Linked DNA regions of Homo sapiens: all the other regions are linked to region 2. Evidence: fine-mapped expression QTL. A gene starts in region 2. Each other region holds a variant in brackets. All regions are shown on one strand. Distances are from middle to middle. Region 1 overlaps TBC1D24 (TBC1 domain family member 24). Region 2 holds the start of AMDHD2 (amidohydrolase domain containing 2). Region 3 overlaps PDPK1 (3-phosphoinositide dependent protein kinase 1). Region 4 overlaps PDPK1 (3-phosphoinositide dependent protein kinase 1). Region 5 overlaps PDPK1 (3-phosphoinositide dependent protein kinase 1). Region 6 holds the start of ABCA3 (ATP binding cassette subfamily A member 3).

Region 1 (5,356 bases), 33 kb after region 2:
AGGTGCAAAGGCTGAGGGAGGAACAGGCTGGCTGCGCTACAGGGCGCAGAGGGCAGCACGGACACACCCACAAGCCCCCGTGGATTATATTCCAAGCGCAGTGGGAAACTGGCAAGGGATGGGCTCTAGTCCCTGTTCTGTTGCGGGATTTACTGAGCCTGTTGATAGAAAGCACTCAGCCCAGCCCGGCCGGCCAGGACCGCTCAGCTGCCTGAGGATGCTCTCATCCTTACAGGGTCCCAGGCCAGGTGCTAGAAAGGTGTTCTAGAATGCCTGGGACATCACGGTCCCAGCGGGTCAACACGCAGCCGGTCCTGCAGAGGGAGGTGCAACTGCACGGGCCAGGGGCAGCTCTCTCACAGGCCACCGTCCCCTCCTAATGCCTCTCTCCACAGCCAAGCTGCCCTCCATACCCAGTGCGGCTTCTTTCTCACCCGGGAAGCCTCTCCAGGGACCTACATGGCCTTTCCTCATAAACGCCACGCCTGTTTGAGAGCTCAAGGTACCTGCAGATCAGAAGCAAATGTTTGTATTCATTTGTTCGCTCGTTTATTTATTTATTTATTATTTATTTATTTTTTGAGACAGAGTCTGGCTCTGTCGCCCAAGCTGGAGTGCAGTGGCGCGATCTCGGCTCCCTGCAAACTCCGCCTACCGGGTTCACACCATTCTCCTGCCTCAGCCTCCCGAGTAGCTGGGACTACAGACGCCCACCACCACGCCCGGCTAATTTTTTTGTATTTTTAGTAGAGATGGGATTTCACCATGTTGGCCAGGCTGATCTCGAACTCCTGACCTCGTGATCCGCCCGCCTCAGCCTCCCAAAGTGCTGGGATTACAGGCGTGAGCCATTGGGCCATGCCTCATTCATTCATTTTGAGACAGGGTCTCACTCTGTTCCTGCTCCAAAGCAAATATTTCTTTCTTGTTTTTTTTTTTTTTTGAGAAGGAGTCTCACTCTGTCACCCAAGCTGGAATACAGTGGCACGATCTCGGCACACTGCAACCTCTGCCTCCCGGGTTCAAGTGATTCTTCTGCCTCAGCCTCCCAAGTAGCTGGGACTACAGGCACGCGCCACCACGCTCAGCTAATTTTTTTTTTTTTTTTGTATTTTTAGTAGAGACGGGGTTTCACCGTGTTAGCCAGGATGGTCTCGATCTCCTGACCTCGTGATCCACCCGCCTCGGCCTCCCAAAGTGCTGGGATTACAGGCGTGAGCCACCGCGCCCGGCCAAATATTTCAAAAAAAAAAAAAAAAAGCAGCCAGGTGCGGTGGCTCACACCTGTAATCCTGGCTAACATGGTGAAACCCCATTTCTACTAAATCCAAAAATTAGCTAGGTGTGGTGGCGGGCGCCTGTAGTCCCACCTACTCAGGAGGCTAAGGCAGGAGAGTAGTGTGAACCCGGGAGGCAGAGCTTCCAGTGAGCCGAGATTGCACCACTGCACACTGCACTCCAGCCTGGCGACAGAGCGAGACTCCATCCCACAAAAAAAAAAAAAAAAAAAAAAAAAAAAGCTATGTGCGAATGAGTAATGAGTATAAGCGATTTCTATTTCCCCAAAATGTTATCTTGATATGTCATCTGACGCATGTGACCACCGTGCCCTCTGGCCACAGGGCACAGTTCTGGCTCTACCACATGTGAGGAGGGGCCCTTTAAATGGCTACAGGCTTGCAGACCCCCACCCCGCCACAGCCCCAGCAGCCTTCCCAGGGAGGGCAGTTCCTGCCAGTTGACCAGTGTTCAGCCAGGAACACCCAACAGCAGCCTATGTCCTCACTCCATGGGAGCTCCAAGAAACCCCCAAATCCGTCCCTGGCAGCAAACCCCCTGAAGGCGCCCACAGGAAGAGGAAGGCGGCCAGGGCTGGGAGGCGGGCCGTCTGTCAAGAGTGTGGCACCCTGAGCTAATTTCTAGCCAGGAGGCAGGTGGGAGGTAGCATGGATGTGGGAGGAAGTAGATCCTCACTGGAGAACGGGGCAGGAGGGGCCCCAGCGGGGCAGCTGGCCCCTTCGCTCCAGCAGACAAGCAGCTCACCCCAGCCTCGGGGCGGAACACAACCCCACAGCTGCTGGCTGCTGTTGCTGCTCCATCTCCCTTCATCCTGGGACAGCGAGGACCTCCGAGAGAGGCTCCAGAGGGTCCCTGAGCACAGGCAGGACCCACGCAGGTCTGGGACTTCAGGGCACTCGGCCACTTCTAGTACCAGGGCCCTCCCACGAGTCCTGGAGACACAGGCCACCCCGGCAAGGCTGCCACTAGTAACACCACCTGCCATCCCCAAACACCAAACTCCAACACCAAACTCCAGCACCAAACTCCAGCACCAAACTCCAGCACCAAACTCCAGCACCAAACTCCAACACCAAACTCCAACACCAAACTCCAGCACAAAACTCCAGCACCAAACTCCAGGCCTGACAGCCTGAGTCACGAGGCCTCTGCACGTCTCGCTTCTTCAGAGGGGAATGTGATTTTCCCAAACAACCGGATTTGAAAACAAACTCTCTTTCATGTACAAAGACAGAACACACATTTAGCCTCATTGATGACATTTTAACACGGCCAACACCAACCCCGACACCGTGCCTCCCTTCCTGGGGACCGCTCCTGTCCCAGGTCACAGCAAACGTGAGGAGGCAGCATACGACCGCGGCTCCCTCGTCCTGCAGTTAGTCACATGACAGACCTCCACTGAGGTGCCGCCTCTGTGCCAGGGAGAGGCGGCTTGAGAGAAGGCTGTCAACCACGGCAGCTGGGGAAGTGCTAGGGGAACCCCACGGGCAGGGCTGTGCCTGCTGCTGTGGAAGGGGCGGAAAGGTGTGGAGGCAGCCTGT[G/A]GGTGGGGACGGTGCCCCTCAGATGTGGAGGCAAGAGTGGGCGAAGGCGAGCTGGGCGGCCCTGGCAGTGCTGAGGGGCTGGGATGCGCTAAGAGGCGGGTGTCCCCACACGGGGTAGGAGGAAAGTCTAGGCAGGTGACCCGATCAGATCTGCGTTTACAAAAATCCCCCTGGTGGCCCTGGAGGAGGAAGGGTTGGGACAGAGAAGCCAGGGAGAAAGGAAGGCAGAGTCTAGACCGGGAGGGTGGAGAAGATGAGGGGACCCCCAGAGATGGCTCAGGGTTGGATCCCACAGGACCGTGGCCTGACAGTGGCAGTCAGAGCCCAGGCCACTTGGGGATGCTGGAGGCGGGGGCGAGCGACAAACAGAGAATTCCAGCCCAGGGAAGCTCCACTGTGAAGTTTTCAAAGCCAGTTTCGATACAGATGCTTCTTAGGCAAATGCCAGAGCAGCTCAGGCTGGAGGTAGAGCCCTGGGGATGAGGCCCACAGCACAGAAGGCACTCCCACACACTCCCAGATGCCACCAAGGGGCCAACTGCAGCCCCCTGGGCAAGAGGCAGCCCTGTCCCAACGTAGGTCAGTGTTCGCTAGGACTCCAGGTTGAAGAGCTGGGGTTGCAGGCCTGGGCCCCATCCTGCCCTGGCCTGACCACCACACACATCCTGGCCACAAGAACAGCCCCCGTCCCAGCAGCTGACAAGCTATCAAGGACGCGGGGTTCTGTGTGGCTGGACCTCAGTCACGGGCCACAGAACAGGGCATGGGCGTCAGCTGCCGCTCGTCTCACTTCTTCCCATCTGGTCTGAGCAATCCCTCACCATTTCCTGGGAGTGGGACCGGGAATGAAGAGGAAGAGGAAATGAGGCCGGGCCCCATGGGTGGGGAACGCCAACGCCCGCAGCTAGGGACCACAGGAAGGAGGTGCTGTGGCCCCTGCGGGCTTCACGTGATAGGAGATGCAGGCTCCTCTCAGTGGGCTCCCCTGGCGGGATCCAAAACAATCTCGCTCCCCACGGAAGCCCCTGGACCTTGCCAAGTGCTGCGGGGATACAGAGGAAACCTGGTGGTGGGCTAGGGAGACCGGCAGGCCCCACCCGCTCCTGAGCACCGACCCCACCCGCCAGGCAGGGGAGGGCAGCACAGGCATTCCAGCCCGGGCGCGAGATCCGCAAGATCCAGGGATGAGAGCTTTGTTGCCTGCCAGGGAAGCTCGGAGTGCCCGGAAACCCTGGGGCACAGGCAGCAGCGGGCCAGGTGGGAATGGTAGGGACGGTGTGGGGGTGGCTGAGAGGGCCTGGAAGCGTGTCTGGACTCTTTGGAAAAACTCTCATACCACGTTTTCCTCTGCTCTGACGCCAGCACCGCAATCGGCACAGGATCTGCGACCCAGAAGATGCGGGGGTTTCTCCCGGCAGCAAGCAATCCATTCTGCAGCGGGCGCCCGCAGGGTGTCCTCCAATTCAATCCCGACACCGGGAGACATCTACCTGGAGATAGCTCAGATCCCACAAGCCCCCCACGTCTCCAGACACCAGTCAGAAGTCCAGGCCTCTGGAACTTCTCAGCAACCAACTTCAAGTTGGGGTTCCCACAACCCCTGCTTTGGGTTCAATGAATTTGCTGGAGCAGCTCACAGAACTCAGGGAAACACTTACATTCACTAGTTTATTATAAAGGTTGTTACAAAGGACACAGATGAAGAGACCTTTAGGGTGAGGTACGGGAGAGGGACACGGTGCTGCCCTCCAGGCACTCCCTCCTATTCAGCTGTCCAGAAGCTCTCCAAGTCCTGTCTTCTAGGGTTGACATGGAGCCCTTGTTAAGTAGGCATAACTGATTACCCCACTGGCAATCAACTTGACCTTCCACCTCTGGACCTCTCCCCTCCCCGCGGTTGGGGGTGGGGCTGAAAGTTCTAACCCGCTAATCCTGCCTTGGTCTTTCCAGTGACCAGCGCCACCCGGAAGCTATCAGTCAACACCAGCGCACAGAAAGAGCACCACGGAGATTCTGAGGATTTCAGGAGTTGTATGTCACTAAACAAGGACAAAGACCAAATAGATATTTCACAACATCACAGAGGTGCTGGGAGAGTAGGTGGAGGGAGGCTGGAAGAACACACTAGATGGGGCAGGGACTGGGGCCTAAAAGCAGACCTGGAGCGGGGTGTGGATGGCAGGCATGAGGGGAGAGGTGGCCCCAGCATTCAGCCCCAGGGAGGGGATGACGCCTCCTCCGGCTGGGGGACCTTCCTTGCAAGTCCACGCCAAGTCTGATTTCTTCATGAGGGGCCCAGGCCTCCCACCTACGTGCTGGGAAAGGCCAGGGAACACCTCATCCTGTCCTCCAAGAGTCTGCTGGATGCCTCAGAGACACAAATAAATCCCAGGCAGAGGCCCAAAGTGCAGACACTCCTCCTGCCATATAGCCCCACCGCCCTAGGCCTCAGCCCTGGAACAATGGAGCTGGCACAGTGGACCACGACGGAAGAGAGCCACTGGACTTGTCTG
Region 2 (5,000 bases):
TTGTATTTTTAGTAGAGACGGGGTTTCACTGTGTTAGCCAAGATGGTCTCGATCTCCTGACTTCGTGGTCCGCCTGCCTCGGCCTCCCAAAGGGATTACAGGCGTGAGCCACCGCGCCCGGCCGAAAAAGCTTTTTAAATTAGTCGGGTGTGGTGGCACAAGCCCGTAGTGCCAGCTACTCTGGGGGACTAAGACAGGAGGATCTCTTGAGCCCAGGAGTTCAGAACCAGCCTGGGCAACACAGTGAGACTTTCTCTACAAAAAATGTTAAAATTGGCTGGGCATGGTGGCACACACCTGTAGTCCTACCTACTCAAGAGGCTGAAGCAAGAGGATCGCTTGAGCAGAGAAGAATGAGGCTGCAATGGGCTATGACCACACCACTCTACTCCAACCTGGGCCACAGAGAGAAACCCTGTCTCTTAAAAATAACAAAAACTGGCCGGGCGCGGTGGCTCACGCCTGTAATCCCAGCACTTTGGGAGGCCAAGGCGGGCGGATCACGAGGTCAGGAGATCGAGACCATCCTGGCTAACACGGTGAAACCCCGTCTCTACGAAAAATACAAAAAATTAGCCGGGCGAGGTGGCGGGCACCTGTAGTCCCAGCTACTTGGGAGGCTGAAGCAGGAGAATGGCGTGAACCCTGGGGGGCGGAGCCTGCAGTGAGCCAAGATTGTGCCACTGCACTCCAGCCTGGGCGACAGAGCGAGACTCCGTCTCAAAAAAAAAAAAAAAAAAAACTAAACAAAAAAAAAAAGCATGTTGGATACAACCTACTCTCAAATAGTTCAGTAAAAAACAGTAGCACAGGTACAGCCAAGAGGAGCCTGAATAGTAGTAACATACAGCAAAAAGTTAACCCTGTAGAACCTAAGTAAAAATTAAAATAAAAAAAGACCAAGGACAACCAAATTTCTTCCGGGCAGGAAAGAAAATGGAAGCGTGGGGCAAGCAGTACAGGAGCAGGGGGAGTCTCTTCTGGAAGGCGTGTTCCACTGAGTCACACATCAGACAGGTTAGGGAGGAAGAGCCTGACCAGGGACTATCGCTGTGCCAATCACAGAATCCCCTGCGGCCTTGGTTAAGGGGATGGTTTCTGAAGCCTGGAGGCAGCCAGAGTGCAGTGCAGGGGGTGGGGACGGCCTATGGCTCAGACGGTGCTGAGCCAGCAGTGTGGAGACAGCTGCGGAGGACAGAGGGTCTAGGGAGGCCAGGCAGAGCGACAACTGATAAAGAAGCACAGGGGCGGGACCCAGGCCCAGATCCGGTCATCAAAGGAGGCCAGACTCAGGACCATGGAATACGTGCTGGGGGTGGGGGGTGGGGCGTGAGTTTGAAAATGAGGGCGCTGGTTGCTCCGGGAGCCCCCTCCACCTCAGCCAGGGAGCCTCACCTCACCTTGTGATAAACCTCCGGTGGGGAAGTGACCAGGGTGGGGCAGAAGGAGGTGACGCCGTGCGACAGGATCCTCCGGGCCACGAGGGCAACCCCCGAACCCACGTCCTCCGTGGCTTGAGAGAAGTCAACACCAAATCCACCTGCAGCCACAGAAAAGGAAGTGTCGCATGGAGCTCAGAGCTCCTCCCCTGGGTTCCCCTGCCGGCCCCGGGCCGCACCGTTGATCTGCACGTCGATGAATCCGGGAGCCAAGATGCGGCCCCCGCAGTCCCGCCGCTCGTCGGCCACGCGCCGCTCCTCAAAGAACAGCTTCTCTGGGTCCAAGATGCGGCCTCCGCGCACCCACAGATCCTCCCTGGGGACGCAGTGGGTGGGCGCTCGCATCGCGGGCCTGACCTCGGCCCCGCACCCTGCACCCCGCCCGGTCCCCGGCCCCGCACCCTGCACCCCGCCCGGTCCCCGGCCCCGCACCCTGCACCCCGCCCTGTCCCCGGCCCCGCACCCTGCACCCCGCCCGGTCCCCGGCCCCGCACCCTGCACCCCGCCCGGTCCCCAGCCCCGCAGTCCCCGGCCCGCGCCCACCTGAGCAGTTTCCCTCCGCGCAGGATCCGGCAGTTAGTGAACTGGAGCACGCGGGCCCCCGCCGCGCCCTGCTCGCCGCGCATCGTGAGCCGTGTCGGGAGCGAGCGGCTCCGGAGCCCCGCGGCGGCCAAATCCCGCGCCCAGTGACGAACCCCAGCCGAGAGCTGAGACCGCGCCCACGTGACCTTCAGCTGACTGAAGCGGCGCGCCACGTGACCGCCGCGCCCACGTGATCGAGCCAGCCCACGTGACCGGCAGCGCCCGGCGCCCGCCCGCCCGCCCGCCCGCCCCCGCCCCCAACAAGCTGAGCAGACACAGGCCCGTCACATCCAAGAACTTTATTGGACACAGCTCCGCGCAGGGCCACGGGCCCGGCGGTGAGGGCGGCTCCATCCAGGAAGTCTCAGCAACAGGAACCCACAAGGCGACACTCTAGCTAAGGTTATAGATAGCTGGGAGACAAGGGCCGCTCCGCAGACGCAGGAACAGGCCAGATCTTTATAAATAAACATCCAGTAAAGAGAAATGACAATTCTAAATCATCCGCATACACAGAGCACTCTAGGGGGTGGGGCGCCGGGGGCCTGGAGGGGCGATGAGTGGGCCCAGATGTCCACGGCACGGGGCGGGCGGGGGCAAGGCCGGGGAAACAGACGATGGGCACTAGGACACTGCGCATGTACAAGACCAACTACTGGGGGCGGCGGCCCCGTGCGTATGTGTCAGGCTGTTCGTTCTGGAATGAGGAGGGGTGGTCTTTACATAATATTCTGTGGCTGGTGGGCTCGGAGAGGGTCTACTTTGTGGAGAGGATGAGGGCGACGATGAGACCGTAGAGGCCGAGCACCTCGGCGAAGATGAGAATCAGGATCATGCCCACGAATAGTCGGGGCTGCTGGGCGGTGCCCCGCACGCCAGCGTCCCCCACGATGCCGATGGCAAAGCCGGCTGCCAGGCCGCTCAGGCCCACGCTCAGGCCGGCGCCCAGCTGGAGGAAGCTCCTGGGGGCGAGAAGAGAGGACTGACATCAGCAGCCTGCCAACCAGGGGGAGACAAGGGTCCGGGTCACCACCCACAGGTGAACCGCCCCCCTCCCTGCAGTCCTCCAGCCCTGGGCAGGGGCCTGACCCCAGTGCTCACTTGTAGAGGCTGATGTCGTCATTCAGGGAGTTGGCGATGAGGACTGCCACCACCAGGCCGTAGATGGCGATGATGCCAGCCATGACCACTGGGATGATGGACTTCATGATCTGCTCCGGCCGCATGACAGACATGGCCGCAATGCCGGTACCGCTCTTGGCTGTGCCATAGGCAGCGCCCAGGGCTGTGGGAGGAAGGCGGGGTGAGCCCACAGCAGTACGCAGGCCAGTTGAGACTAGGACCCCGAGGTGTAGCTTTGGCACAGCTCCAAGGGCCACCCCAAGTTATCACATGCAGAGGGGGAGCCGAAGAAGGCATCCAGCCCAGGGCAAGAGGACCCAGGAGGAACAGCCACGGGCAAGCAAAAGGAGGCCAGGACAGCCACTCCTCCTTCCTCTACGTGAGGCCCCCACCCTCAGAGTCCAGCTCTTCCTCCAGCAGCAGCTCTTGGGGCGGCGTGACCCATCTGGGGCTCCTGGCTCTGCAGTGAACCCACCTGTCACCCCAGGGAGCCTCAGTGCAGCCTCAGCAGCCCCCATGTGGGGTCAGGGTCAGTCGACCCTTGGGGCTACTGCCCAGGACAACATGCTGGAAAAGCCACCAAAGGTCTTGGGGATGGCAAAGCCACTGCTACAGGGTGTGACCGGAGGGTCAGAAGCAGCTGACCTGGCCACTCTTGTCACCCAGGCCAGAGCTCCCTTGACTCACTGCCCAGGCCAAGCTCCCCAACGCTCCCAGCCCCAAATATTAACCTAGGAGGGCCAAACATTCTGCCAGAAAGGGCAGCTCTCAGCACCCTCAGCCACACAGCAGGCCTGAACCCTTGACAGATTGGAGAATCTTCTCTACCAGACAGGAGACAGGGTGAGCCAAGAAGAGGATGGGGGCAGAGAAGACGACGGGGATCATCAACAGTCCAACTACGAGGCCTCAGCTGACCTCCCAGAGAGGTCTCCCCTGCACACGGGGTGGCTCCAAGCACACAGGAGCCTGGCCAGAGGGCCCAAGCCTCCCACCGCAACAGTGCTGGTGGGCTGGGCTCCAGGGTGGCCTGTCTCCTCCAGAGCTGTCCCTCCTTCCTCTCCCAAGAGAATGTTGCCTTTCTTTTCAGTTCCCCTCTCCTGGGCCCTATTCTCAAAGTGGAGAATTCTGTGGACACAGCAGTGTCACGGGGGCTCATTTGCCTTTCTGACTTCTGCCAGCTGCCCTCCAGGGCCACCACAGGGGCCTACTGAGCTGCTTGTGGGGACTGCACTGGCAACTCCCTGCCCCCTCTCTGCCCACAGAACTCATGCCATGGTCTTTTAGGGGAGCAGATCAATAACCAGCCTGACTTGGCCAGGCGCAGTGGCTCACGCCTGTAATCCCAGCACTTTAGGAGGCCAAGGCGGGCGGATCACCTGGTGTCAGAAGTTCGAGATTAGCCTGGGTAACATGGTGAAACCTCGTCTCTACTAAAAATACAAAAATTAGCCAGGAGTGGTGGCGCATGCCTGTCATCCCAGTTACTAGGGAGGCTGAGGCAGGAGAATCGCCTGAACCCAGGAGTGGAGGTTGCAGTGAGTCAAGATCACGCCACTGCACTCCAGCCTGGGCGACACAGAGAGACTCCGTCTCAAACAAACAACAAGAGTGAATCTCTGACAGACACACACACACACACACACACACACACACACACACACACAAACAGCCTGACCTGCAGAAGACTACATATGTCAGAGGTGGAAGGGACCAGGACTACCCCTACCATTCCTCTTCATATTTTATTGATATATTTGGGCCACAAAACTTGCCTACCCTGTGTCCCAGCACTCAGCAGGGGTGAGGACACAGGCGCGGTGACCTCCAGGCACAGAGACATGCTCCAGGAGAGCG
Region 3 (5,356 bases), 64 kb before region 2:
CGCGTCTGTCCATACCACAGTGACTCCATGGCCACAACCAGCAGGTCCAAATGCCCGGCAGAGGAGGGGAGCGCCCGGCGGTCACAACCCACTCAGCCCCTGGGCCGGCTGCCTCCTAAGCACCTGTTTCCAACTGTGCACTTACGATGTGCTCCTTGGCCAAGCGTCCAAGGCTGCTGAGGGAGGCAGTGACAAGGCAAAGGCACCCACCATAAGCCCCCACGTGTTCACGCTGCAATTCTGCAAAAAGCATTGCTTATGTCCATAAGTTCTTACCAAGGGTTTCCGCCAGCCTGCTTCTCCAACAACAACCTCTTCTCATCTTCGGAAAACTGTAAGTCCAGTTCAAAGGAGTTCGAGTCCAGATCGTGAATGTACTGCTCTATGTTGCTGCCTGACCTCTGGGGCAGGCCCGTGTCGGAGGCTGACAGGGAGTGTGAGGAGGAGGACGAAGACACCTGCATGCAGCCAAACTGGCTCAGGAGATTGTCATACTGCAGAGAAGAAGGGAAAGTGAGAACCGCACCTTCACTTGCCTCTAAGGTCCTAAAACCCCAGCCCCTCCCGCACTGCCGCTGTCAGGCCTTGGGAGCTCGCACACAGCAAGGCGCAAGGCGACAGGGTGGGCAGCCCTGATTCTCCTCCATGGGACACCTGGCCACAGAACCGAGGCCTCACTGGATCCTGCCTGGTCGGGCTCCTCTTCCCATGGGAATCAGGGCCAGAGAGGGGCGAAGCCTCAGATTTCCTCTCCAGGAAGAGGGGACCTGGGCCCTTACCCTGCGGGCCCCGTGAATGCCAGTGCTGCCCCCCGGAGGTGGGGGCTGGGATGCCTGCTGGGAAGAGAAGGGGCCCAAGGAGGCCTGGTGGCAGATCCATCACACAGGCTGGCAGACAGGGCCTCCGTGCAAGACCTTGTTGGGCCCCAGGTGTCTTAGGAGTCTGAGTCTGTGGTAGATGCTAAATATTTTGATTTGACTAAACACATTCAATTGTTTAAAAGACATTCCTCTTAATCCCAGCAAAGATAAACTAAACTTACTGTAGATAACGCTGCCTGTTACTCTAGGAAAAAGACAAGCTAGTGTCGACAACGGAAACTCACTCATAAACGTGCCAAGCGGACACAGCCTGTGCACTAACACGCTCCTGGCACTGCCAAGGCCAGAGAGTCCCTGGGCAAGGGAAGCCACCTCCCCGGCTGCAGGCCCCACATCTGAGCTCTGTGGAGGCCAAGGACAAGGGGAAAGAAAAGGTGCCACGAGCAATGGCTAGGATAAGAGTGCGGCATGCCCTTCCACGTCCTCCGTGCCTCCAGACGCAGGCCCTGGCTGCTGCCCCACGCAACCATCCACACATGCAGCGTCCCCCATGTGTTCACACTCCTACAGCTGCACCACAGCCCCGCCTCACAGCCCTAAAGCCTCGCACCCAGCTGGGCTGGAGCAAGGTGCTCGCCAACGGGCATGGTGGAAACGCCCGACGCTGCCGGCCCCTCCACGCCGGCCCCTCCACGCCGACCCCTCCACGGGGTGTGGGCCTGCCCAGCCTGCTTGTCTCCAACACTGCCCAATGGTCACACTGCCCCGGCACTTACAGGACCTCAGGAGAGCAGGAGCCAACGAAGCACCTGCTCTCCTGCCTTGGCCCAAGGGCAGGTACCATGGCCAACCTCCCTGGCTGAAGGGGACGCCCAGTGCCCATTCCCCATGAAGGAGGGGGTGCGGCCCTGCAGGGAGGGAGGAGGTACAGCCCTGAAGTCTCCTTCCATGCTTGACACCGTTTGCCAAGACTCACTCACTGTCCCCGTGTGAGGTCTGGCCTGGGAGCTCCCTGCCTGGACCCACTCCAAGGCTTTCAAACCACACAGCTGTGCAGAGCTAAGGATGGGCCATCTAACAGGCGGCTGCCAACAAATGGAGCCTGGCTTCACAGACGGCAACAGAAGCCACGTATCAAGCAGCCCCAGCTCTCAGTAGGCCCAGGCACAGGGGCCTGCACAGGTATGCGGCAAGTGCAAGCACACACACCCCCACACTCAGAGAAGCTCCCCAGGCATTGAGACTGGAGACAACTGAAGCCTGTGCTGCTCCTTCAGAGCCCAGCTACCTCCCTGGGAGCAATGGAGCACAGAGCCCACGGGAGAACGGCCACCAGCCAGTCGCGAGCAAAACCTCTGCAGCAACAGCAGGCCCAGCAGGGAGAGCACTGCAGCCCCGTGGCACCTGCCAGCCGTAACCAAACACCACGCAGGAGCAGCTGAGTGGCACACAGGGTGGGGGCAAGGGCCT[C/T]GAGGCTCCCAGGCCTCTGCATACATGAAAGCTGCAGGTGGCCACATCAAGCGGCACAGACTCCGCTCCCCAAGCCTGGCTCCCTTAGAGTTTGGGCTCAAAGGATGTCGGGAGGATGAGGGGCGTTACACAGCAGGTAGGGGCGTTGGGAAACTTTGACACTAGCAGAAATTTAGCTGTGGATGACTTTTAGATAAAATCTAGAATTCCCAGCTGGGTGCAGTAACTCATGCCTAAAACCCCAGCAGTTTGGGAGGCCGAGGCGGGTAGATCACTTGAGGTCAGGAGTTCCACACCAGCCTGGCCAACACGGCGAAACCCTGTCTCTACTAAAAATACAAAAATTAGCCGGGCATGGTGGTGCACACCTGCAGTTCCCGCTAGTCGGGAGGGCGAGACAGGAGAATCGCTTGAACCCACAGCGGCAGAGGTTGCAGTGAGCCGAGATCGCGCCACTACACTCCAGCCTGAGTGACACACCAAGACCCTGTCTCAAAACAAACAAAATCTGGACTTCCTCAGTCATGGAAAGTGGAACTCCGTACACGGTGCCAGTTAGAATAAGCCATGGCGACAGAAGTCAAACCAGAAAAATGGATCTCATGATAACAGCACTTAAGTACGAGGGGGTCACGGGGGAGGTGGCAAGAGGAACTCAGAGGAAACAAGGCTGAAGTGGGCGACATGCCTGCCTCTCACAACACCCTCGGTCCCTTGGGCACATGGTCCACGCTCTCTACGAGAAGCTTAAAGAGCCAAGCGTGCTGAAGACCCCATGGCTGTGGTCAAGCTGGGAGACCAGCAGCCTCAGAGCCTACTCAGCACTGAAGAAGGTACCAGTGTCCCCACCAACGCCACGTCCCAAAAGTTCAAGCACACAACACTCGGGGGTTTCTGTGGAAAGACAGGCAGTGTTCTGGAGCATCTTGGCCGCACAGTTGTACAAGCACCAAGCCAAGCGCAGATGCGACAGGCCGGGCAGGAGGCCCCGTACGTGGGACCCCGGGGCCAGTGCCGGGGGTGCTCGGCGTCCGGTTCTAGCGGCACCCTGTGGGTGGAAACTCACTAGCCTGTCCACGGCCACGGAAATGAGGAGAAAATGACCCACCCAGCACCTCACCCGCCACTGCCTCACGGCAGCAAAGACTACAACCACCAGCAGGCCTGCCGCAGTGGCACAGACACCCTCCCCTTTCGGCTACAAATCACACGTGGGTCTGGCGCACGGGCATGAAGCCCAGTGCACGGAGGACCCAGTGCCACCTGCCTCGCCCGCCATCCCGGCCAGCTTACATTGCCATAGCAGTCCTCGTCGTCTTCCGACATAGCCGGCAGGTAAGCGGTGAGCTTCGGAGGCGTCTGCTGGTGCAGGTTCTCCCACGTGACGGACTCGAAGAACGGGTGTGCTTTAAGAGGTCCGTATCCTTCCATTTCCTCACAGCCTAACCGCTTTGTGGCATCTAAAACCTTAAGTAACAATCAAGACAAGTCACTGCCAGGGTGAAAACGTGATTCTGACCAAAGAAACCCAAACCTGGTAGCCGGGCACGGTGGCTCATGCCTGTCATCCCAGCACTTTGGGAGGCTGAGGCGGGCAGATCACCTGAGGTCAGGAGTTCGAAACCATCCCGGCCAACATGGTGACAACCCGTCTCTACTAAAAATATAAAAATCAGCTGCGCGTGGTGGTGCACGCCTATAATCCCAGCTACTCGGGAGGCTGAGGGAGGAGAATCGCTTGAACCCGGGAGGCAGAATTTGCGGTGAGCCACGATCGCACCATGGCACTCCAGCCTGTGCGACGAGAGCAAAACTCCATCTCCAAAAAAAAAAAAAAATATATATTTATCTCATCTCATCATAAGTCCCTTTCCATTTCCAAGTGCCTGATTCTTGACAGGAAATGACTGTAGCAGGAATAATAAAAGAAACTAAAATTTAGAAATCAACGGAAATTACTGTACCATTTAGCATTTGCTCAACACTGCACAGCATTTTAAGTTACTGGTGCTGGAGCGACTGGGGTTATGACAGCGCAGATGGCTGCAGACCCTAGTTCGTGACATCTGTACATTTCAGCTTTAGAGTCAGCTACATGAAAATTCGAACGACCAGCCCAGGTAAAACAGAGAAGAGAGGTTAGCCTGGGAAAGGTGTATCAGTTTATATTCTAGAAACAGAAGTCTCCTGACCTTCCTGTGCTTTTGGCCCTGGACGTCCCTCCTTACCACGACTCTGGGAGCGGGCTCAGTCCTGCCCCTGCAGGTGGCCCCGGGATCGCTAGGCTCCACAGCCACTGGCTTCTCCCAACCTGTCTCACCTCTTTCCCCTGGGCTGGGGTGTGGGCTTGATCAGTCCCTGGAGGAGACAGCTCTGCGGCCTTCGAGGGTCCCAGCGACACCCACTCCACAAGCGCAGGAGCGTGCTGGTCCCAGTGATGATTCGCTCCCTTTGTTAATTACTCAGTGTTTCTTGTTTTAGGATTTTTAACTATACACTGTAAAAGAATCCTTGCTGCTGTTCATTGTGTTTTGAGACTGAGATTCCTTTTCACCTGTGCGAGGAAAGGGGCCGAGCCTTGAGGGGCAGCACAGGATCCCAGGGCCTGCCTCCCCGTCCAGTTGCTCTGCGGTGGATGGAGGGGGCGGGGGGGCGGGGAACAGTACGGGGTGCTCTCCAGCAGATACTGAGAAGTGACAATAAGTACTCAAAACGTTTGGGTTTTGTTTGTTTGTTTGTTTGTTTGAGACTCTCGCTCTGTCGCCCAGGCTGGAGTGCAGTGGTACGATCTCGACTCACTGCAACCTCCGCCTCCCGGGTTCACACCATTCTCCTGCCTCAGCTTCCCAAGTAGCTGAGATCGCAGGCGCCCGCCACCATGCCCGGCTAATTTTTATATTTTTACTAGAGACGTGGTTTCACCATAGAGGCCAGGCTAGTCTCAAACTCCTGACCTCAGGTGATCCACCTGCCTCAGCCTCCCAAAGTGCTGGGGTGACAGGCGTGAGCCAATGTGTCTGGCGAGACTAGGTGTAATGATCCACACTCACTGTTAACCCTAAAAA
Region 4 (5,356 bases), 84 kb before region 2:
GGCGGGTGGTGGGTCCCAAGCTGGGCTCTGAGGACTTGGTTGGGGGCAGTCACAGCCCAGAAGCTTAGATGTGGGGCCAGAGGGCAATCAAGCCAGCCCCTTGATGTGCGTGGCTTTCACCACCCTCCCTAACAACCCGTCTGTCAAGAGCTCCCCTCCCTACCAGATAGGATGCTTTAGCAGGGTGCTCTCCCAACCTCTCAGGCACCCAAAGCTTCTATGGTTTCTTGGGAACTCCTCCCCCTTAAATCTCCCCACCCAACCCCTCTCCAGACCCCCACACTCTGCAAGCCCAGGTGCTCACTCCACACAAGTCTAATAATCCAGGCAGGGACTCTTCCACCAGATCCATGCTTAAGTCCAACTCGAGGAATATTCTTTCCTTAATCTCAACTCTGAGGTCAGGCCTTGGAGATCTTTACAGGTGAATCAACATCCTGTTTGTCTTCCAACGTGTCATTAATGGCCTCCCACTCCTGACACCCCTTCCCCCCCTCCTCAGATTCCTCAGTCAGCATTTAATTAGGAGGAATCTCCTGGGACATTCTTTCATCAGAGCCACTGGAGACAAAACTAAGATGAAGCATTTTACACATTTCCTCATTTGATGAAAAACACCGGAAAACACTTTAGTAACGTGACTAATATGAATTAGCACTACACTTTTGGCAAATTATCTGTCACTAAAACTAACCTTATTTACTCCAATTATTGTTTTCTCCTTTTCTTTTTTCTTTTTTTTTGAGACAGAGTCTCGATCTGTCGCCCATGCTGGAGTGCAGTGGCGCAACCTCAGCCCACTGTAACCTCTGCCTCCCGGTTCAAGTGGTTCTCCTGCCTCAGCCTCCCGAGTAGCTGGGAGTACAGGCACGCGCCACCATGCCCAGCTAATTTTTTTGTATTTTTAGTAGAGACGGGGTTTTGCCATGCTGGCCAGGCTGCTCTCAAACTCCTGACCTCAGGTGATTCACGCGCCTCGGCCTCCCAAAGTGCTGGGATTACAGGCGTGAGCCACCTTGCCCGGCCCCTACTCCAATTATTGTATGAGACAGAGACGACTGTATCTGCTACTTTACCTTCATGTTCTGAATTTGAGTTTTACCATTTGGAAATCAAACCTGGTTAAATGGATGATAATGAAAAGAGCAAGTATAACACAGATATATTCAGAAAGATTAATTACCCCTCGCCCAAAGAATTGATTCCTACCGTAAAGCATTTTTTTGTTTGTTTGAGACAGAGTCTTGCTCTGTCATCCAAGCTAGAGTGCAGTGGTGTGATCTTGACTCACTGCAAGCTCCGCCTCCCGGGTTCTAGCGATTCTTCTGCCTCAGCCTCCAGAGCAGCTGGGACTACAGGCGCCCGCCACCGCGCGCGGCTCATTTTTTGTATTTTTAGTAGAGACAGGGTTTCATCGTGTTAGCCAGGATGGTCTCGATCTCCTGACCTCGTGATCCGCCTGCCTCAGCCTCCCAAAGTGCTGGGATTACACACGTGAGCCACCGCGCCCACCTTTTTGTATTTTTAGTAGAGACCGGGCATCACCATATTGGCCCGGTTGGTTTTGAACGAGATCCACCTGCCTGGGCCTCCCAAAGTGTTGGGATTACAGGCATGAGCCACCGCGCCCGGCCCATAATTTTTAACAAAGTCTTAAGGAACAGTAAAGCAAAGGGATCAACCACCTTAACTGTGCTATAGTTCATCAACTGGGAATCAAGTGCTCCAGTGCTGAATAGACAACCATTGCCTCAAAGAACCCAATGGACAAGAGCAATTTAAACTCTAATTTCATATACAAAACAGGAATGCTTGAGTAGAAAGGCAAGGGAGTGACCACTAAGCCCTGTTATTTAAAAAGAAAAACCAAACAGTAAAACACACACCCACACTTATAAAAGGAAAATCACAGCTAACAAACGCCTATTTCTATCCTGGGGATGACTGTCATTTCCTGGGAGGTCAATTCTCTGAGTAGAGGGCTTGGTCAAATGAGCAATGGAAACAGTTGGAAGTTGTGGGGAGGCACAGGAGGGTTGGCATCTCAAACCCTCATTTCCACCCACAAGGCTGCCTTAGCAGTAACTCCAGATTCTCATTTCCTGATCACGGTCATGCCATGCTGAGAATGGTCTCAGTCAGGCTTCTCAAACTTGAAGAGGGATCCGAACCTTTCTGGGAAGCCTCCTGCATGGCAAATGTTGGCTGCCAAGGCACAAAGCCAAGCGCAGTCATGTAAGCTCAACTGAAAGACCCCGCAAAGTTAGTATAAGGCTTGTGAACTGCCTTGAATAAATATAGGTAACAACTTCTTCAAACAGGCTTTTTTGTGAGTTTCAATCCTGCACAACTCCCAAGACACGGTTCCTCGGCTCCACAACTCTTGATAAATAAAGGTAGCAAAAGGTTTCTATTACCATCTACCCAACAGCATGAGCATTTCGCTTGATGAAAGACAAGCTGCAAACTAACCTGGAAATTCCTGTCCTTTTGCGAAGACAGTGGGAAAACTAAGCCAATTAGAAAGC[A/G]GATTGAAAGATTCCTTACCTGGCCCTTCCTGGACATCCCTAAAGCAACCCTTAATATGAGCAAAATCCCCTTCGAAAAATCACAGTATATACTATGGACGCATCTTCTAAGAGGTGCTGAGTGGGTGCTGCGTGCTGTGGATGGAAAGGATGGAGCGCCAACTCTCTAAATACAAGTCACCAGGGAAAAAAAGGGCCGCCCATATCAACCCCCACGTCAGCGTTAATTCAAACGTCCAGAATGTGAAACGCCAAGGGTTCTGTCTCCAGAGCCAGCAAGTACCCTGGGACAGAGAAGAGAAGGCGTTCACACACCCTGGGCAAAAGAACCTAGTGAGAAAAAGAAAGTAGAATCACAGCAAAGTCCGGGGTCTCGGAAGCCTCCTCCACCAAAGAGCAAAGAGGGCGAGGAAGAGACACCCCCAAGGTGAAGCGACTCAGGATTCTCAAAGGCAGTGGACACCAGGGCGCCATCCTTGCCCTCCCCTCCCAGGATAGGGGATCGGGGCAAGCTGGGGATGAGCTGGCGACAAGGGAGTGTTGGGCTCGAAGCCCGAGGAGAGTCGCCCTCTCCTGCTGAGCTCTCCTCGGCGTGGAGCAGGGCGTGTGCGGCGGCCACAGGCCGAAATGGCCCAGGCCCTTTCGACTGGCCCACGTGGTCCTCACCTTGTCCGAGTCCGGGTCGGGGTCGGCCTGGCTCAAGAGGTACAGGAAGGATTTCGGGTCCTGACACAGCGGCGTCTGCCCAGTGGTGAGGAAGTAGGTGCCGCCGCTGTAGAGCCGGACCCACTTGGACCTGCTGCTGGGGCGCTGGGCCAGGACGCTGAGCCCCGCGCTTTAAGGGAGGCACAAGAAGCCACCCCAACCCCGCCCCGAGCCTGCCACGGGCCAGCGGCAGGAGCTCGCAGTGATTCCCCGCCATGATCCCAGCAAGCCCCACCACACCTCCGCTTCACCGGAAGAGTCCGGCTTTTAATATCGCCCTTTGCGTTCTGTCCCGCCCACTGGTCAGCCCTTGTAGAACACCCGCCGGTCACATGGCAGGCGGAAGTTCCATCCGGGAAAAGCAGCCGGCTGGTCCCACTTCCGGAGGGAGTGAAACCGAGCTTGGGGCGCCAACGCTAGCGGGCAATGGCAGACACCCGCCCCCAACCGCGCCCCCACTCCGTGGCGGGGTCAAAGGAAGAGCCACGCCAGCAAACCTCTACACTCTACATGCTTTTTATTACAAGACTACTGACCATACGAGGAAAATTCATCATCTGGTAACTACACCTAAAGCACAAGTATTTGGAAAAAAAAAAAGGATAAACAGATTCATTAAATTATATGATTAAATCACTGACCCAATAGAAAATTTATATAATAAAGCCAGAAAAAAAGTTGTAAAATATAGTTTACAATAATTATTCACATTCAAGGCTGTACATCAATACATACAACAACGTGGCCCCGAACATGAATTCAATTCAAATAATTCATATATTAGAATTTAAATAACACAGACTGAACTAGAGGCCAACAATAGCCAGCAAATAACCTTATATAAGAATAAAAATACAAAAGTGTATATCCTAGTATCATTGCATTTGTTTTCATAAGTTCTTTTAATTTTTGCTTTGTCTGTACATCACAGTTACAGCTACAGACCAGGTAGAGAATATTACGCATGTTCTGCTTGCCACCCACCTGAAAGACGTACTAGTCATTTATCCTATTTTATGTTGTGAAGGAACAGCTACAGCAGCTCTAAATACTGTAACAATTTAATTTTGCCAACATCCAACTTACTTACAGTCGTAATAGAGGCTTTTACCAGCACAATGACCCCTATTCGTAGTCATTCTGCCAGGTGGTTAGGCTATGTGGGTTACACAGCTTAAAAAAGGTCTGCCTTTTGTAAAAAGTTCTCTGTACATAGTTTGGTGTTTCTTCATATGGAAGAAATGAGTTACGGGGAAAATTCAGGTACACACGTAGGCTCGTTCAGTTGCTCACCACAGCCATCTCAACAGATGAAAGTGCTCTTTGTTGGAAACAGCTTCCTCCTCACACCAGTTCTCCACAGGCAGCCTCATCTACAACCCTGCAATTTTGGGCCAGAAGTGGTGGCCCCTCAGAGGCTCTGAAGTGCCTCCAGCCCCGATTCAGGCACTTGCCACGTGTGCTGCGTAAGAAGGGACCCCCACCCAGTGAGTCAACATAGGCTCATGTCAAGTTTGAAAATAACTGGGGAAAAGTGTATGACAACATCTTCCAGAACAAAGTACCTTCACCGTATTCTCACAGCAGCTGCGATCTCTGAAGTCTCAGCAGTGACCACCCCGGGTCTGTCAACCAGCCAGGCAAGGGGGGGCCCTCAGGCTTCAGAGGGCAAGAAACCAAATTCCGTGCAATTTGGCCATAATCTCTGGTAGAGTGAAGCAGCACTGAACACGGTGCCTAGAAAAACCTCCTGCACGTTCCCCTGCACAATCAATGGACCCCAACTACAGTGGAGAAATGAAGAATCCAACCAAATTTGGGTGGTCTGGACTTGCTGCCAGCCAGGCAATCTGCAACACTGTGGGCAGGGAGTTGGGGGGGGCGGCCTGAAATCTACACCAGCTGGGACAACCACGCCCTACAATGAAAAAGCCAGCCTGGCTGCTGGGCTCTTGTGAACCACTAAGACCTGAAGGTGGGGCCCCACGGGTGGAAGGGGGAGACAAATGCACTCTTGTAAAACCCAATCAGCTACGTGGTTTTTTTCAAAGAGGCTTTGCTCTGCTACTGATTCCAAATGTCCTAATATACCTTCTGAGTCTATAAACTTAATTACAAATCAC
Region 5 (5,172 bases), 72 kb before region 2:
TTGTATTTTTAGTAGAGATGGGGTTTCACCCTGTTGGCCAGGCTGATCTCGAATTCCTGACCTCAAGTGATCCGCCTGCCTCGGCCTCCCAAAGGGCTGGGATTACAGGCATCAGATACCGCGCCCGGCCCCAAGATACTATTTTAATGTCTGCAGTTTACCTCATGTGGTTAAAGCTAACAGTTACTGGTTTGTGTTCTATCTGATCTTACGGAAATTCCTGATCTGAGGTTCTACTATAGAAATAATATGCAGTTTGTTTGTTTGTTTGGTTTTTTTGAGACAGAGTCTCGCTCTGTCGCCCAGGCTGGAGTGCAGTGGTGTGCCATCCTGGCTCACTGCAACCTCTGCCTCCCGGATTCAAGTGATTGATGCTCCTGCCTCAGCCTCCCAAGTAGCTGGGACTACAGGTGCGCACCACCACGCCCAGCTAATTTTTTGTATTTTTAGCAGAGATGGGGTTTCACTATGTTAGCCAGGATGGTCTCAATCTCCTGACCTTGTGATCCACCCACCTAGGCCTCCCAAAGTGCTGGGATTACAGGCATGAGCCACCACCCCCGGCCAATAATATGTTTTATATTTGAAGAAGGCATAAGATGATCAAATCAATATCTGAGCACATCCACACGCCTGCCTGGCTGCACACAGGGCCAACAGCACTTGTGAGAAGACCGGACTGGCCGAGTTGGGGGCACAGCATCTTCCCCCAGGGCTTACCCAGCCCCACCATCTGACCCACCCAGACCTGGGCAGATCAGTGCCCAGGCCTGCCCCAAGAGGGAGGACCCAGGGCCTGGCCTCACACACACATCCCATCCTGTGGGTCTGAAGCAAGAGGAGTGTGTGGCATGCGGGCAAGTGCAGCCCTCCTCTCGCACCAGGGACTTCGCCTGCAAACACACACAATGTGGGTATTAAAACAAAGAGAAACAGATCAAGGAGGTTCCTGAAAAGGACATGTGATGAGGAAGACCCACCACAGCACAGAAAGCATAGAGCACAGAAATGCCTGGAGGGACCACAGAGCCGGCAGGAAGCCACTCTGACAGACAGGCCTGTGACCAGGCAACAGCGCAGAGGAACAACAAAGGAAAATTCATCATAAATTACACCGGGGCAGGCAGCGTGGGAGGCACAGGGTCCCTTTGAGCCCAGGCCAGTCAGAGCTCTTGCAGGCAGATGAGGACGGAGAGGGCCCCACGGCCTCTCCCCATCCTCAGCTTTCACCACACGCCAGCAAGTGCCAGAAGAGGTGATGAGATGCATGGTTTAAAATACCAACTCGAAGGAGAGAAAAACCAGAAGAACACAGCAGCCCATCCCTGCAACCTGTGTGGGAGGGGCCGCCTTCCTGGCTGAGAGCGAGAACAGCAGCCCAGCACTGAGCTGTGGGAGCCACGGAAAGAGGACGAAACCACCTCCACCTAAAAAACCACCAGGACCACAGCTGGGGCGGGAAAGGACTTCCAGATACAGCCGCCATGGGCCATCAGCTGCACCCCACAGCAAATTCACAGTGCCACGAGAGGCTTGGAACCCAACAGAAAACTCAACAAAATGACACAAACTAAAAATTCCCAGAAGAGGAATTCAGTGACACAAGAAACTCTCAATGGCCCTAAATGAAGACATTGAGCTGGGCCGCTCCACCCTGATCATCTGGGCATGCCACAGGCACGGGCGTGCAGGAGTGGTGCTCCCGCTCGGCACCTGCAGCCTGGGGAGGACTCACTGAGGAAGCGATTCGGAAATAGTACTGAGAAGTAGCCTCGCTTCCAGAAATCCATCCTGAGAAAAAAAAAGGCCACAGGCAAGGAGCCCAGAGGCACTCCCAGCAGTGTCACCCATGCCAGGGACACTGAAGCCCCAGAGTGGCTCAGTGACAGAACACGCCAGCACCACGGGGAGGCAGGCAAGGGCCCCACGGACAGGCGCCACCCACCCCCGCGCCAGCATCCCCTGAGAGAGACAATGAAATGGACAATTCCACTCCCCGGTGGCCCAGGGTGCATGGACAGAGACTGCGGGCAAAGCTCCACTGGCGGCATCTAGAGCACAGCGTGTGTGCAGCGGATTCACCTGCCAGCTCACGACAGAAACAGCTCCTTGCTGTGAGCACTTCCAGGAATCACCTTGATTTTTTTTTTTTTTAAGACAGAGTCTCGCTCTGTTGCCCAGTCTGGAGGGCAATGGCACAATCTTGGCCCAGTGTAACCTCTGCCTCCTGGGTTCAAGCGATTCTCCTGTCTCAGCCTCCTGAGTAGCTGGGATTACAGGTACCCACCAGTAGGCCCAGCTAATTTTTGGTAATTTTAGTAGAGACAGGGTTTCACCATGTTGGCCAGGCTGCAATCACCTTGATTTTCTACTGTCTCCTGCAGAAAATCCCCTGCCCTGAGAGCCCTTTCCTCCCTGGGAGGCTGGGCAAGAGCTGAAGACCTGGAGACACACCTAACTACTCGCCATGCACACGGGACTTTCCCGAGGCACCTCACTCTCATACACCGCCATCTTGGCTCCCTCAAAACAGGCGACACCTCTCCCCACCTCTGCACAGAGGAGGATGCAGGGCAATCCACAAGGGGTGACCATAGAAAACCCCCTTTCCCGATGCCAAAGCGCAGGTTCTTGCCACCTCCTCCACCCTCCCTCACCCAGACCCCAAAAAGAGCATTGTCAAGGATCCAAGCCCAAAGCCACTGGCAAAGCACCTGCCACGCCCAGGAGAGCCCCAGCAAGGACCCAGAGCCCCGCTGGAGGCTTTTCCACCCCTCGGGAGGGCTCTGCAGGCTCAGCTTCACTGCCAGTAAGGGCGGGAGCCA[G/C]TGGCAATGGCGGACGGGCCCCAGGTTTCCTCTCCAACCTTCCAGTCCTATGGCCCCTCACACTCTTTACCTCTGTGGAAGACCCCAAAGAGCTTTCAGATCAACTGATATGTACTACGCAGGAAATTAAAACTGAGACATTTTCAAATGTTTAATTCATTAAAATACAATAAACCCATTACTATTAACATACATTACTTTTATTTTTAAAATAACTACTTTCCAAAACAAAAATAATGAATGAGGAGAGTGTGCCACTCTGTGCGCTGCACAGGCCTCTCCTGTTCGGCTGATAAGGAGAGTGCTGGGTCCCCGCATCCACCTGCGCCCATACTCTGCTGAGATCTGTGTTCAGGCGGAAGAACACGGCAAACACCCAGCCTCACTCAGATAAACAGCTAGAAAAGGGAGGAGTATACTCAGCCTTTTTAGAGACTGGAGTCACTTCCTGGCCTTTTGGCTAAGAATAAGTGTAGATGTTTGTGGATATTCTTCTTGGACACTACACTGCAGTTCAGAAGGTGGTGGCTGCTTAAAGCTCGGTTGCAATGTGAAATCTGACTCGTAACAATACATTTCCACACACCGTGACACTAAAAACCATCAATCTACCCTGCACTAGGGGCTCTTCTACCCTCATGTGATTTCATAGGGTCATACATGGGGGCTGAATGATGTAAAGCTTCCAAACGTTGACAAATTTCATTCTACGGTTTCCACAGATCAATTCATGGATATCACTATGTATCAAATGACTTTTGGCCTCTAATCCCAGCACTTTGGGAGGCCGAGGCAGGTGAATCACTTGAGGTCAGGAGTTTGAGACCAGCCTGACCAATATGGTGAAACCACGTCTCTACTATAAACACAAAACTCAGCCGGGTGTGGTGGTACACGCCTGTAATCCCAGCTCCTCGGGAGGCTGAGGCAGGAGAAATGCTTGAACCTGGGAGGCGGAGGTTGCAGTGAGCTGAGATTGTGCCACTGCACTCCAGCCTGGGCGACAGAATGAGACTCCGTTTCAAAAACAGAAAAAAAAAAAAAAAAAGACTTTTGGCCTGGTGCAGTAGCTCACGCCTGTAATCCCACCACTTTGGGAAGTCATAAGCGAGAGGAATGCTTCAGCCCAGCAGTTCGAGACCAGCCTGGGTAACATAGTGAGAGCTTGTCTCTTTCTTTTTAAAAAATAATATAAACAAACAAAAAAACATAGCTAAAAAAAGTCTTTTATTGGGAAGGTATCAGGCTCACAGTAATGAATAAAGTTTTCCAAAATTCCAATTTTCACTTGAAGGTTTCAATGTTATCACTGACATAAATACAGGCAGTTGTTTTCCTTAAAGTAACAAGCTCATTCCAATCATTTTCAAGAAAAATACTGGCCAAATAGCTAAGTCTGCATAACGGCGGTTTGCCCGTCAGCCAGACGCTCCGCGAGGACAGCAGGCCAACAGCCACAAGCGTGTCTCCCCTGAGATGGCTGCACACTCATGTTTGCGGCAGAATTGAGTGCCCTTCTGTATACTTCCCACTTCATCCCACAAAGTATTCACAACATTCAACATTTTTAACAAAGGCTCAGAAGCGAGACTGGTTTCTTTCCTCTCTCTCTTCCTGTGGGTGAGTGCTGTGAAGATATGACTATTGCCCTGGCACTGCTTGGTGCCATGGCCTCAAGTCATAGTGAAACCCTGTCTTCACTAAAAATACAAAAATGAGCCAGGCACGGTGGCACACACCTGGTAATCCCAGCTACTTGGGAGGCTGAGGCAGGAGAACTGCTTAAGCCCAGGAGGTAGAGGTTGCAGTGAACAGAGATCACTCCACTGCACTCCAGCCTGGGCGACAGAGGGAGACTCCGCCTCAAAAAAAAAAGAACATCATCCGTGATGAGAAGCCAGGGGACACAGGCCAAGCGACAGGTCCAGGCTGTCTGTAGACTCATCCACTGTGAGGCAAAAGCACAACTCAGCAGCAGACATGTCAACTCCCTCTTCGTGCCTGCAGTCGTATCTTGAATCCAGCAAGTTTCGACTGCATTGTGGACTGTGGCAGCACAGGATGACCAAGCCTGAGGCTGTGCTGCAGCCGGAGGCTTTGTCTCTCAGCTACCGTGTGGCCTCTCCAGCCTCTACAATGCAGCTTCTAAGAGCTTCAGTGACTCTTTAATTTATTGTCTGAAAAGCTGTTACAAACAACATTGGATTTTAAAGAGCTCATCACACATATTTTTGAAATGTTCCTTTTAAGTGTAAACTATTCCATGTAAATTTAAAAATTCCTTTTACCTTTTTTTTTTTTTTTTTTCCAATTTTGAGACAGGGTCTCACTCTGTCACCCAGGCTGG
Region 6 (5,356 bases), 180 kb after region 2:
AACTTTTCTTTGAAAAAAAGGTAAAAAGCTGACAGACAACCTGGGGAAAACACCTGTAATACATTTGCAAAAGCACCTGTTCCATTGAGCCTAGACCCCGCTTTCCACCATTGTATCACATTGATGGAGAGTTTTCCAAACACAGGAGAGAGGTTCAAATGTCAAATGTCCAATTTTCATTTCTGAAAAGAAAACTGAAGAATCATGCCCACAGAATATCATTTATGGAAAAATGATAAATAATGCTACACTTGTATAGGCTAATCTATATATGTGTGCAAATACATTTAAAAAACTTTAAGAAGCTTATTTACCAAACTATGACCATGGAGAGGAAATCAGGGAAGGGGATGGCGGTTACAAAGAATTTTGGTTTGCCTATTAGTTTGAATTTCTCAACAAGAATATATTCATGTAACACTTGTTAAATTTAAAATTAATTTGAGAGCATGCAAATCATCCATAAAAATCATCTCCTCAAAATTTCTAAATGTTTAAAACCTAAGCAAAATAACTATTTTAAAGCGAGTGATTTGGTTTAGACAAATATAGTTAGGAAACAGCTTACTTATAGTTTCTGTACTACTTAATAGTACAAAGGAAATCCCTGAATAATTGAGATAGTCCATGTATTAATGCCCATTTTTGCAACTCATAGTCTGTATTGTCTTCAATTGCTGTATCTTTGCTTCTAACAACATATTGTTGGGCACTCTGAATTCTATTAAAGTATAGATGGTGGCTTATTCACATTTTTATTTCAAGTTTCATCTGGCATATAGTAAGCACACAGTGAAAACTAAATCGAATTAAGCAACTCTGTTTTGTGAGATCCTTCAAAACACATAAATTTCATTTGTTGGGCCGGGTGCAGTGGCTCATGCCTGTAATCCCAGCACTTTGGGAGGCCGAGGTGGTGGATCACCTGAGGTCGGGAGTTCGAGACCAGCCCGATCAACATGAAGAAACCCCGTCTCTACTACAAATACAAAATTAGCCAGGCATGGCAGCGCATGCCTGTAATCCCAGCTACTTGGGAGGCTGAGGCAGGAGAATCGCTTGACCCCGGGAGGCGGAGGCTGCAGTGGGCCGAGATTGCGCCATTGCACTCCAGCCTGGGCCACAAGAGTGAAACACCGTCTCAAAAAAAAAAAATGTTCATGCGTTTGTTTCCAAAGCATACAGTATAATGCTTAGATCACTTATTGAGCCCTTGCCGAATGCCAAGGACTTTTCTAAGTCCTGTACTTTACATGTTTTAATGCATCTAATCCTCACAACAATTCTGTGAGGAATTGTTATACAATCCTCATTTTATACTAGGAAACCAAGGCACAGAAAGGTCCAGTAATTTGCCTAAAGACATTAAGAGCTGGAATTTAATCTGAGGCAATATGGCCAGAGTTCAGTTTTAACCATTACAATATAATGCTTCCCAATCACTGAATGAAAGAATATGTGTACAGCCCTTGGTCTACAATGCGTCTCTGAATTATAACATCATTCCCAGGGAAACAATCAAAGAAGCCCTATTCTAAGATACTGTATTGAATATCAGCAATTTGGGTACTGTTGTACGATACAATAGATAGACAGATAGATAGATAGATAGATAGATAGATAGATAGATAGATAGATAGATAGATAGGGTATAGTATTTGTACCCCTTCAAAGAATTGGGAGCTTATTGGTTTAATTATATCTAGCCGACTAGTATAATGGCTAGGTTTACTGCCTTTTGTGAAGCTGTAAGATTTGTTTATGAGTGTCACCATCCACTATAATGTTTACCATCAATCTTGAGAGAAAAGAAATGTTTGAACCATAGTAACTTCAAGGAGTGTATCCTTCAATTTCTCAGCATGTATTCATGGTATATGGATGTGAGTGTTTCCATATAAGAGAGGGGTAGAGTCCAGGAGCCTGAACACGGAGGTTGTCATCTCAGCTCTACTGGGTGACTCTGAAGAAATTATGACCTTATCTGGGCCTCCATCTGGAAAGAAATGACTAGGTGGAGCATCTAGGTTTGCTTTATTTTTTCAGTAGTGGGCCTTGAGCACAATGTGATGAATTATCCAGGGATTGTTGAAGGGCATCAAAAGGGTCCAGCTCACTGTGGGCAACTGTTTTTTAACAGTTCAGAGCCTGAAATTTTTGGGCATAAGATACTTTTCCCAGTGGCCTTCACACCCTCCCACCTCATGATTGTGATTATAATAATTAACAATTAACCTGGCAGAGTTAAGAAAAAAGATATAAAATTAGTACCCTGCAATTGTCTGTCTTGATCTGTAAGGTCATCCTTCTTCCAAAATTCCTACCCTATCTTCCATCTAAGGTAAATTCTGAGTCAGCCAGTTCTGGTACTGGATTTGGTTACAGAGAATTGGGATCCAGTTTTGAAAAGGCCGGAAAAACGTGCAAGGTCTAACAAATTCAATTTGGAAATGGCAAGGATTGGTTTTGGAAAGAAAAATGACTGAGGATATGACCGGGTGAAGACAGGGCCAAGCAGCCAAGTTCACATCATTTTCTGGGACGAAGCAGAGAATGGGGAAGACATTTTGGATGGGGTGTTGCAGTCTGTGAAGACTGATGGGGAAAGGGGGTTTTTAGGATGTTTGCAGCGCATTAATAATCCACTCCCCCACCCATCCTGTAACTGCATTCAATTGTTTGGGGTTTTTTTTCCCCCTGTATGCTCATTACGGAGACTAGGCTATGTAAATCCCTAGCTATACTCACATTATATACTACCATTTATTTGGCATTTATGTGTCAGGTATTGTAGTAAGCACTTAAACATGCATTTTCTCATTTGACCCAAAAAAGAAAAGAATACACCAACAAAAAACCTTTGAGTTTGCTATTATTATTAATTACTATTATTATAATTTCAATTTTAGGGATAGGAAATTGAGACTCAGAAAGATAAAATGACATGTCTACATTAATTGGTGGGTCAAGATCTGAAGCCAGGTCTCTGTGATTCCACTGAACAAATTATTTAGCATGAGCCTCCTCCGCCCCAGGCACTCTAGGACCCTGGATCTAGGCATGAACCTGACGAAGTCCCTTTGCTCGCGGAATGGGCTATCCAGAACATCATCAGAGTGAAAGGTGCTATGTACACAGTAAAATGGGGAACGAGCCGCTCAAACCCTACTCCATCAGGACTCTTGGGGGTGGGCGATTTCCGCCCCCGGCCCGGGGCGTTGCATTAGGTCGGGGCCGTCGGGTCGTGGTGCCGGCGGCTGGCTGGGCGCGGGGCTGGCGGTGCGGGTCGCAGGCGGCTCCCAG[C/A]GGCAGGACCGGCAGCAGCCCTCCCTCACCCGGGGCGCCGGGACCACGGACGCACCTCACTGTGGTCCGGCCGCTGGCGGCGCTCGGGGACCCATTGGCCCCGGCCCGCGGCAACTGTCGGCCCCGCGCGGCGCCCGCCCTCATGCTGGAGCCCGGGAGTCCCTCACTCCACCTCTCCCTGCCACGCCAAGGGGGCCCGCCCCTCCCAGGCTCTCCTGCCTGGGGCGACCCAGTCCCACGACCCGGTCCGGCCCAGGGACACCCCGACCCACCTCCCCACTCCCGTCCCGTTAGACCGCGACCCGTCCCTGGGACCGCCTAATGTGACACGCCCGGGACCCTCCCTGCAGGCGACTCCCTGCAGGGCCCCCGCCCTGGACACTCCCTCCAGGTGACCCCGTTCCGCTCGCTCCGTGAGGTGACCCCGACCCTCTCCGGACCACCTCCTCAGGTGACCCCGACCCTCTCCGGACCCTCCCCGACCCTCCCCTCAGGTGAACCCGACCCTCCCCGGACCATCCCGTCGGGTGACCCCAACCATCCCCGAACCCCCCCACCCTCCCCTCAGGTGACCCCGACCCTCTCTGGACCCTCCTCACAGGCGGCCCCGCCCCACCCCGGGACCCTCCCGCCAGGTGACCCCGACAAGGCCGGGCCCTCCTGCCTGAGGTGACTCCTACCCGGCTGGGGACCCCCGAGGCCTCCCTCGCTCCTTAAGTGAGGGCGACTCCGCTCATCCCGGGACACCGCGCCTTCTCCTGTAAACTCGACGCCTGCCCCGACGGCCGAATTCCAGAAGGTTCCTCGCCGCCGCCTCGCCTTCGGTCGCGCCCCAGCGCCCGGCCAGAGGCGGGGAAGCCCTTCCCCCGGTGCCAGGAGTGACGAGGGCCCAAGGAAAGACAGTGCGTGAGGAGAAATGGAGAAACGGCCAAAGTCGAGTTTCCGGGTGTGAAGACTTCCACTGCTGCGAAACGCACGTGCGCAGAGTCATTCCTGTCAGAGGCCACCGCGCCCTCGCTCGGCTACCGCCGCTGCGCGCCCCCTGCTGGACATAGGCGCGGGCACAGAGCAGTGCGCAAGCACGGGCTGCCGCGCGGCCGGGTGCGAACCGCGTACTCGCAGGGTGGCTGACTGCGCACGCGCAAGTCAGAGCGCCCTCTGCCGGGCATGGGCGACATGCAGGGGGCACCGCGCAGGCGCGGGGTTGGGCTGGCCGGAGCGGCCGAGGCGGCCGGGGGTGGACCGGGCACCTGCAGGGGCGGCCGACTGCGCACGCGCCATCCGCGGCGCCCCCTGCAGGAGCCGGAGCGGCCGCTGCGTCCGCCAGTAGCGGGTTGCAGGCGCACCCTCCCCTCCAGGGCGGCCACGCAGCTGTCAGTGCCGCCGCCACTGCGAGGCTGGAGCGGAGCCCGGGTGGCCGAGGGAGGGGACCCCGCGAGAGGGCCGCGCGCCGGCCGCCGCCGCCCCGGCGCCCAGGCTCGGTGAGTGCCGCCGGGACCCGCCGCTCGCGCGCTCGTTCCCGGGGCTTGCGGTCCCCACCCGGGTCCGCCCTTCCCACCCTCGCCGGCCAGCTCGGGCCTCGGGCCCCCCCCAGCTCCGGCCTGGCCTGCGGGCCCCTCCCGCGACCCCGCATCCCCTCCGGCCGCGCCCGCGCCCGCCCCTCCTGCCGCGGCCTCGGCTCCGGGCGCTCCCTGCAGGTGCCGCTCCCTCAGCGTCGGCTCCCATCCGAGCCTTGGGCGTGTCCCGCACTGCGGGCAGTGCCTGAGCCCGCGCCGCGCGGGGAAGCTCGACCCTGCGGAGACTCGGCACGGCCCGGGCCCTCTGTGTGCGCCCAGAAGGTGGATATGTAGCGACCGACAGCCCCGGCCCCGAGGGATGCAGGCGTCCGCCGCGCACTTGCGGAGATGGCGCCGCTTTCCGGCCGCAGGGATGCCGGGCGCGCGGTGGCAAAGCCGCCCGGGTTGGATTCCGCCTGCTCCCACCCTCTGGTTCCGAGGAGCCTCCAAATCCGAATCCAAGGCCCACGGTCCGCGGCGGGCGTTTGCTGCGCCCT

Evidence for each region. PIP is the estimated chance that this variant, and not a neighbour inherited with it, causes the effect.
Region 1: its variant is fine-mapped to the expression of AMDHD2 in lung (TOPMed, PIP above 0.99). The same link has a PIP of 0.9 or more in monocytes, nasal epithelium, pancreas, tibial nerve and whole blood.
Region 3: its variant is fine-mapped to the expression of AMDHD2 in whole blood (INTERVAL, PIP 0.99).
Region 4: its variant is fine-mapped to the expression of AMDHD2 in blood mononuclear cells (TOPMed, PIP above 0.99). The same link has a PIP of 0.9 or more in T cells and whole blood.
Region 5: its variant is fine-mapped to the expression of AMDHD2 in whole blood (TOPMed, PIP 0.97).
Region 6: its variant is fine-mapped to the expression of AMDHD2 in whole blood (TOPMed, PIP above 0.99).

What each region holds. Positions count from the first base shown.
Region 1 is chr16:2,484,657-2,490,012 of GRCh38, reverse strand. The region is part of intron 1 of TBC1D24 (TBC1 domain family member 24); the gene reads right to left. Among named protein-coding and RNA genes, the nearest start is that of TBC1D24, 12 kb to the right of the region's middle. The variant G/A (reference allele first, on the strand shown) is at 2,844.
Region 2 is chr16:2,517,524-2,522,523 of GRCh38, reverse strand. It overlaps AMDHD2 (amidohydrolase domain containing 2), which reads right to left and starts at 2,153. Exons shown (of 11, transcript NM_001330449.2): 1 at 1,983-2,153; 2 at 1,619-1,755; 3 at 1,401-1,540. The coding sequence starts at 2,065. It overlaps ATP6V0C (ATPase H+ transporting V0 subunit c), which reads right to left. Exons shown (of 3, transcript NM_001694.4): 2 at 3,123-3,306; 3 at 2,306-2,983. The coding sequence ends at 2,779. RefSeq lists silencers at 1,938-2,007, 2,178-2,287.
Region 3 is chr16:2,581,814-2,587,169 of GRCh38, reverse strand. PDPK1 (3-phosphoinositide dependent protein kinase 1) reads right to left here. Exons shown (of 14, transcript NM_002613.5): 10 at 3,585-3,758; 11 at 277-494. Among named protein-coding and RNA genes, the nearest start is that of PDPK1, 46 kb to the right of the region's middle. RefSeq lists an enhancer at 1,425-1,926. The variant C/T (reference allele first, on the strand shown) is at 2,292.
Region 4 is chr16:2,601,566-2,606,921 of GRCh38, reverse strand. It overlaps PDPK1 (3-phosphoinositide dependent protein kinase 1), which reads right to left. Exons shown (of 14, transcript NM_002613.5): 14 at 3,734-5,356. It also overlaps the pseudogene LOC652276. Among named protein-coding and RNA genes, the nearest start is that of FLJ42627, 35 kb to the left of the region's middle. RefSeq lists an enhancer at 3,011-3,350. The variant A/G (reference allele first, on the strand shown) is at 2,529.
Region 5 is chr16:2,589,657-2,594,828 of GRCh38, reverse strand. All of the region lies in intron 11 of PDPK1 (3-phosphoinositide dependent protein kinase 1), which reads right to left. Among named protein-coding and RNA genes, the nearest start is that of FLJ42627, 47 kb to the left of the region's middle. The variant G/C (reference allele first, on the strand shown) is at 2,826.
Region 6 is chr16:2,340,001-2,345,356 of GRCh38, reverse strand. It overlaps ABCA3 (ATP binding cassette subfamily A member 3), which reads left to right and starts at 4,629. Exons shown (of 33, transcript NM_001089.3): 1 at 4,629-4,784. It also overlaps the pseudogene ABCA17P. RefSeq lists silencers at 4,319-4,778, 4,949-5,008. The variant C/A (reference allele first, on the strand shown) is at 3,304.